2 linked regions of the Homo sapiens genome follow. The protein of the gene in region 2 purifies or fractionates together with the protein of the main gene of each other region. This does not show direct contact. Each region holds a gene or a part of one and is shown on either strand. Other genes may lie near its edges.

The links.
Region 1: the proteins of SLC25A37 (region 2) and TTYH3 purify together in Homo sapiens (affinity purification with mass spectrometry; one large-scale study listed by BioGRID and IntAct). This does not show direct contact.

What each region holds. Positions count from the first base shown.
Region 1 is NC_000007.14:2,648,707-2,652,517, reverse strand, and holds part of TTYH3 (protein tweety homolog 3), read right to left. Parts: intron 2,952-3,811; coding exon 2,879-2,951; intron 2,606-2,878; coding exon 2,530-2,605; intron 332-2,529; coding exon 276-331; intron 1-275. UniProt on the Homo sapiens protein: Calcium-independent, swelling-dependent volume-regulated anion channel (VRAC-swell) which plays a pivotal role in the process of regulatory volume decrease (RVD) in the brain through the efflux of anions like chloride and organic osmolytes like glutamate.
Region 2 is NC_000008.11:23,535,444-23,539,254, reverse strand, and holds part of SLC25A37 (mitoferrin-1), read right to left. Parts: intron 2,422-3,811; exon of another isoform or gene 2,351-2,421; intron 1-2,350. UniProt on the Homo sapiens protein: Mitochondrial iron transporter that specifically mediates iron uptake in developing erythroid cells, thereby playing an essential role in heme biosynthesis.

The sequences.
Region 1 (3,811 bases), on a different chromosome or scaffold from region 2:
CCCACCAAGGCCAATCCAAGGAGCAAAAGCAGTCCCAGCGATGCGGGTGCATTGAGCAGGTCCCCCCGAAAGGCTCTCAGCCAGGTCACCAGGTCACCGGCATGGTAACCCCAGGGGCTGTTGGTGACATCCACACAGCCTTTGTCCAGCTCCCTCCCCCAGTTCCCCAGTCCTGCAGGCTGAGGAGCCAGGCGCCAGGCCTGCTGGGCCCCTCCACACACAGCAATGTGCTTCAGACTCTCCTGAAGCCCAGTCCCGGCCTCCCAGGCTCTCACCTGCTGGAAGGGGTTGGCGGCGCGGGGCGAGCAGGCCAGGTAGTACTGCAGGATGTCTGCGGAGAGACATCAGGGAAGGCTGAGCTGCAACAGCTGTCCCTGTGAGACTGCGTGCACGTCTGCCTGTGTCTGCACGCATATCTTCAGGGCATCTGCGTGCATGTTTACATGTGTGCATGTGTGTCTGTGTGCACCTGTTTACACATGTGCATGTGTCTGCATGTTTACTTACACGTGCATGTGTCTCTGTGCACGTTTCGTGTGCACGTGTGCCGGTGTGCATGTGTCTGTGTGTTTATATGTGTGCATGTCTGTGTGTACATGTCTTCGCATGTGTGTCTGCATGCATTTACACACATGCCTATGTCTGTGTGTGTGGCAGTGGGGTCTGGGCTCCCATCAAGCCAGAGTCCCCACACACTGCCCCTTGCCTGGGTTCCACCTTCCGAACTCTTTACAAGTTCAGTTCTTCCAATTATAAAAGAACATTAAAAAAAAACATTTTAAAAGTTCAAAAAATGATGAAAGTATTTAACAACATAGGAGAGCACCAGGCATCACTGTGGCCGCCTGTGCAGTGAAGCCAGCGTGGCTGGCCTTGCTGCCTTCTGGGAGGGGCTGTCTGGCCCGCAGGCTGGAGCTCACACTTACGTGTGTACATGTACACGTGTAGGGGGCGCTGCTCATACTTGATGAGATCCCCCCAAAGGCCGCCGGCTACAGTAGGGACCTGGAGGGACCAGGATGATAGCACCGGGGCCAAGGACAGTGGTGGGTAGCACTGAGCGGTCACCAGCCCTCCCCGCCCCTAGCAGAGCGGGCCCACCCCTCCACCCTCGCCCCCGAGGACAAGGTCAGTGGGCGGCAGATGACTTTTCCTCCAGGAGGCTCTTCAGGCTTTGGTGGAAGTGGTTCCTTCAACAAAGGCAGGTAAAAAACCAGCCCACAAGCCAATCCTGTGGCCTCCAGGGACAAAGGGTGGCAGGATGGTCACCTTCAAGGTCATTCAGTAACCCTCACCCCCACAGGGACAGGCCTTCTATTTCCTATTGGGGAACACACAATAATTCCACAAGGGGGGCCTGAGAAGCTTAACACACTGACGGCACCCCGATCTCCAGATTCCCACGTCCACCTGCCTCTGTGCCGTCCGACACACATCGCAAACCTCCCGAGGGGGCCGAAACTCCCGATGCCCCAGCTCCCTGCCCCCCACCTCCAGACCTGCTCCCCCACCCACAGTACAGCTTATGGTCCCGCAGCACAGAGCTGCTGAAACCAGGGACGCCAACTCCTGCTCCGTCCCTCTCGCTCCCTACATCCAACTGACCGGGAAGTCCTGCCAGCTCCGCCCTCAAAGCCCATCCCTGTCCACCTTTTGCTCCATTTATTCAAGCCCCTGCTGTCTCCTGCTTGAGGTATCCTCCTCACCCACTCTTGTAACCCTTGAGGCCTGAGGAAGCTTTGAAAGGGACCTTCAATCATGGGTCAAATCTCTCCCCTGCCTCCCTCCCTCCAATGGCCTCCCCCTGGAATAAAGCGAAGCTTGCCACAGAGACTCAGCCCCACTGGCCTCCCACCCTCCATTCTCCCCTCGGGTCTGCCTCCTGCCTCGGGGCTCTTAGAAGAGATGCAGCGTCCTTCTGGCTCTACTTTTTTTTTTTGAGATGGAGTTTCACTCTTGTTGCCCAGGCTGGAATGCAGTGGTGCGATCTCGGCTCATTGCAACCTCCACCTCCTGGGTTCAGGCAATTCTCGTGCCTCAGTCTCCGGAGTAGCTGGGATTACAGGCACCCACGACCACACCCAGCTCATTTGTGTATTTTTAGTAGAGACAGGGTTTTGCTATGTTGGCCAGACTGCTCTTGAACTCCTGACCTCAGGTGATCCACCCGCCTCGGCCTCCCAAAGTGCTAGGATTACAGGTGTGAGCCACTGCACCCAGACCTCTGGCTGTACTTTAATGCCACCCATTTGGCCTCCCCTGGGCATCTACTCGAAGCAGCCCTGGGTCACCTGCCGCTCCCCCTGCCACGCGGGCACCCGCCACCCCACATAGTTCCTGTCATTCTTTGCAGAGCCTCCCACTTGGGAAAGGTGGTCCTGTTTGCTCACTAGCATCTTGGCCTGGGACCTGTCTCCCTGAGACCATGGACCCACAGGGCAGGGGTGTCTCGGCCTCAGCTACCCCACTCTTTTGGCTCAGCCCAACCCTGGGGAACCCGCTGGGACACGGCCGTGGACACAGACTCACCCCCACTCAGCACCGAGTACTCCTCCACCATTTTGGTCACGTAGGCGTCAGGGTCCACACAGAAGTCGCTGGAGCCCTGAGGTGGGCGTGGGCAAGCAAGAGGGGTTGACCAAGCTGGGCCTAAAGGGAAGCTCTCGGGGGTAGAACCCGTCCCCTGGAGTCTGCTTTCAACTCAGGAGGGTGGACTGTGAATCTGGGGTTACAGGTGGACTGTGCCCATGGTGGGTCCCCACCGCTCTCGGGACCCAGTGCCCGGGAAGATGGGAGGGGAGAGGAGTGTGGCTTCCCCTCGTCCCTCCCCCAGTGCCCAGGTCCAGCAGCCGGGGACCTCACCCCCTCTGCCACTCACCACGGACACAGCCAGCTCCAAGCCCAGCGCGCCCCAGCTGATGACCAGGGCCAGGACTCCCAGCAGGCAGACCCTGGGGCAGAGACAGCCAGTCAGCAGCCCCCAGGCCAGGGTGGGGGCCGTGCCACCTGCTGGGCTGCAGGCCAGAAGGCAGGTCCCAGTGCACATCAGGGGTCAGCCCACACATGGGCTGGGGCTCTTCCTGTGGCCTGGCCTCAGCCAGAGCTGCCCACAGCCCAGGGCCCAGATGGATCCCTCTCCTAGGTGGGGTGGGGCTCAGAGATCTGAGCTGGAAGCAGGACTGGAGGGCCACGTGGCTCTTGGGGCCCCGCCCCTCCTGTCCCCCAGGTCCCTCTCCTGAACAGGCAACAGTGTCCACTTTCACGTGGGTCCCCGCATCCCGCCGCCCACGTAGCAGCCCAAGGGGCCTGATAACGTCAGCTAGATCAAGCCCTCCTGTGCTGAACCCTCGCTCAGCAACTGGGGACTCAGAGCTCTTGCTACGGCACTGGCCTCTCCCTCATCTGAGGCCTCACCTCACCCACATCTGGCTCCCTTTGATCCAGATACACAGGCCTCCTGTGCATACCCCACTGCAGGTGCCCCCACCACGAGTCCCCCATATCCCAGTTCAGATCCCCAAAACACACCCCAGTGCAGGCCCCACACCCCACTGCGGGCCCCACACCCCACTGCGGGCCCCACACCCCACTGCGGGCCCCACACCCCACTGCAGGCCTGCACACCCCACTGAGGACCCCACAACCCACTGCACACTGTCATCCTTCCTGTCTGTCCAGGCGTCCCTTACTCCCTTGGGCCCCTGCTCAATCCCTCCTCGCTCAGGTCTCCTTGGGCACAGCGTGAAGCTGCACCCCCCCCCACCACCCTACTGCAGGCCTTCACACCACCCCGGCTTTTCCTCTCCAGGGT
Region 2 (3,811 bases):
TCAACTTGACCCACACGGCCAGACGTTTCCTAGACCTGTTATGCAACCCTTGCTTCAAGCAAGCTGCTGCTGGGATTTCTCCCTATTTCAACATGTTTTGTTTTCTCTTCAGAGAGAAAGCATGAATGTGAAACCATAACACCTCTTAGTACCCGACAACGGCCCTTCCTGACTGTCTGGGGTTACGAGGAGGGTGGGGGATGTTTTCAAGAGCACCTTCTGTGAGCCAACTTGAGCCTCCAGAATGACTAACCACCGTGGGAGGGAGGGTGAGGATGGTGGGGAGGGAACACAACTGAGGACCACTGTCTCTCGCAGGAGAAAGAACAAATTCCAGAGTGCCCAGCAAAGAAACTAGAATGACGCTACCCTGTAGGCTCTAGACCTGCAAGACGGCAGCAGCTTGAGCAGTTCAGAGTCCATACACGCCAGACCTTGTTCTTCCAGCCCATCTGAAAGTCCGTCAAGACAGGCGACTCTTGTCTTGAAAGGGAGCTGGTTCTGTCGCCTTAGCTCAGGGTCTAATTATAGGAAGCACGCTTACTTTGAGAACGGGGACCAGGCATTCTTATTTTTGTAGCCCAGTGTCTAGCACAGTGCCTAGCCAAGAGGGCACTCAGGAAACGTGGAATGACATGAGTGGCCAAATGAAGACATTGCCTCATCGGGGTATAGCTGCTGCTTGCTGGGTTCTACACACACACACAAACACACACACACACACACACACACGACAAACAACGGAGCCAAGAAAGTCTTCTTTGTGGCCATAACATGCATGGATTCAAAACCAATGCAAAACAAAAATCAAAACTGGAATTTGTTTAATGGCAAGTTTTTTTTTCTGGTTTTTTTTTTTTTTTTTTTTTTTTTTGAGATGAAGTCTCGCTCTGTTGTCCGGGCTGGAGTGCAATGGCGCGATCTCGGCTCACTGCAACCTCCGCCTCCCAGGTTCAAGTGATTCTCCTTCCTCAGCCTCCCAAGTAGCTGGGATTACAGGCACCCACCACCACGCCCAGCTAATTTTTGTATTTTTAGTAGAGACGGGGTTTTGCCATGTTGGCCAGGCTGGTCTCAAACTCCTGACCTCAGGTGATCTGCCCGCCTCGGCCTCCCAAAGTGCTGGGATTATAGGTGTGAGCCACCACGCCCAGCCAATAGCAAGTTTTAAAGCTTTTCATAACTTTTTTTTTTTTCATCTTTTTTAAAAAGCCGTGCCTTCCTTCATTCAACCAATATTCACAGAATACTTCTTTGTCATTCTGTGGATGAGTCCAAGAAAGGCTGGAGGAGGAAAGAGTTTCAGTCTGTGTGCCTGCCATGCAAAGGTCGGGCTTTACATGCAAGGCAAACAGAAGTGCTGAGGGATTATCAGGTGGGGAGACACACAGGTGTGAACTACAGAAAGACGTGGCTACTCCCTGTCTTTCTGCAGGCTTGCAGGCTCTGCGGCAGGCACCACGAAGAATGGGCTGGATCTTCCACTCCAATCAGCTAAACTTACCTCTCCCGCAGGATCCCAGTGTGACAAAAAACACCATGACCTAGCACCTGCACTGAGCTTTACACTTTGAAAACTGTGTTCCCTGCAAACCTGCCTGTATTTTCCAACTAGATGCACTAAAACGACCTGCAAGGGAGGCAGAATCGGCACTGCTACTCTTCTCTATTTCCGATGAGAAAACTGCAGCCCACCAGGAAGCTGCTGGGCTTGGAGGCTGAAGAGCAGGACCAGCCATGGCTGACGTGCAGAATGAACTGCAGAAGCTCCTCCATCAAATACTTACTGAGCACCTACTGTGTTTCTGGCAATGGGAATACAGTGGTGAACAGAAGAGCATACATCCCTGCCCACTTGGGGCCTACATTCTGATGAGGGAAGAGAGACCATAAACAATACAAATAATACTATAAATATAAGTAAAATATGTAAACAATATAAATAAACGATGGTGTGTGTTACGAAGTAACAACTGCTGGGGAGAAAAACAAAGCAGCAATGGGCAATAGGGAAATGTGAGGCAGGGGAGAGTAATCTCATTTTTTTTTTTTTTTTTTTGAGACAGGGTCTTGCTCTGTTGCCCAGGCTGGAGTGCGGTGGTCCAATCATAGCTCACTACAGCCTCGACCTCCCAGGCTCAAGCAATTCCCCCACCTCAGCCTCCCAAGAAGCTGAGACCACTGGCGCATACCACTATACCAAGCTAATGTTTTTATTTTTTGTACCTATGGGGTCTCGCTATGTTGCCCAGGCTGGTCTCCAACTCCTGGCCTCAAGTGATCCTCCCACCTCGGCCTCTCAAGGTATTGGGATTACAGGCGTGAGCCACTGAGCTCGGCCTAAACTCACTTTTAACTTGGGCAGTCTGGGATCTCAAGGAAGAGGAGACATCCAGGTCCCTGAACCAAGGCAGTAAGTAGCTGTGGGGAGGGAGAGAAGGAAACACATTCAAGAAGTACTACAGATACAGCCACAGGCAGGCCTTCCCTGCATACAGGGCAGCAGTGGGAGAAAAGCTGATGACCATCCCAGGGTGCAGAAGGAGGCAGAAGGGCAGGCCCGAGGGGAAGCCAGGACCACCATTCTGGCCACACTGAGTCTGAGGAGGCTCCGAGGCAACTGGAGATTCAGCTCCAGAAAGTCTGGGCCCAAGATAGTGATCTGGGAGCCATCAGGTCCCAGGAGGAAACTGAGGCATGTGTGCTGGGGAAAATGAGGTGGAAGGGCACATTCCTGAGGAGAAGCCATGCCCAAAGAGGAAAACTGAGGATCGCAGGGCCAACCCCCTCTCGGAGGTGCCCCTGGCAGGAACAGAGGCAGCAGGGTGGGCCAGGAAGATGATGGGTAGCCAGAAGTCTCTGTGAGGCTGCGGCTGGGCAGTGCAAAAGCCAGGAAGCAGGGGTGGCAGTGAGGAAGTAGAGACCAGTGTCAATAGTTCTTTCAGAACATGTGTTGTTTTAAGGAGGAAAAAAAGGGGCAACAGTTTGTTTATGGGAAGAAACATTGGGGGTGCATGTGAGGTCAAGGTGAGAAGTCTGGGGTTTATTTAAGACAGGATGGGCTTGGATCTGTAGAAACACTTTTGAGAAAAACTCAATGGAGCAGGAAGCCTAAAGATCCTGGAACCGAGTCACTCAAGAGTGAGGGGACAAAAATGACATCACCATCACCATTTATTGACAACGTACGCACCACGCACTGTGGCAAGAACTTTACATATGTTGCCTCATTTAATTCTTACAACAACCCTATAAAATAGCTCTTGGTATTTGATATGGTTTGGCTGCGTCCCCACTCAAATCTCATCTTGAATAGTGGCTCCCATAATTCCCACGTGTTATGGGAGGGACCCAGTGGGAGGTAATTGAATCATGGGGGCAGTTTCCCCCACACTGTTCTCATGGTAGTGAATAAGTCTCACGAGATCTGATGATTTTATATGGGGAAAACCCCTTTCACTGGGTTCTGTCCTCTTTCTTGTCTGTTACCATGTAAGATGTGCCTTTTGCCTTCTGCCATGATTGTGAGGCCTTCCCAGCCACGTGGAACTGTGGGTCCATTAAACCTCTTTCTGTATAAATTACGCAGTCTCAGGTATGTCTTTATCAGCAGCTTGAAAACAGACTAATACAGTATTCATATCCCCACTTTGCAGAGAAGGAACCTGAGCTTAGAGAGGTTAGGTAATGTGCCCAGGTGTGCAGCCAGTATTCAAATCCTGGTGTCAAGGTGGTTTGTATACATCTCCCTTCTCTGCCACATTGATATACCTTAAAGGAATGAAGACACCTGTTCCCTTATAGTGGGGGT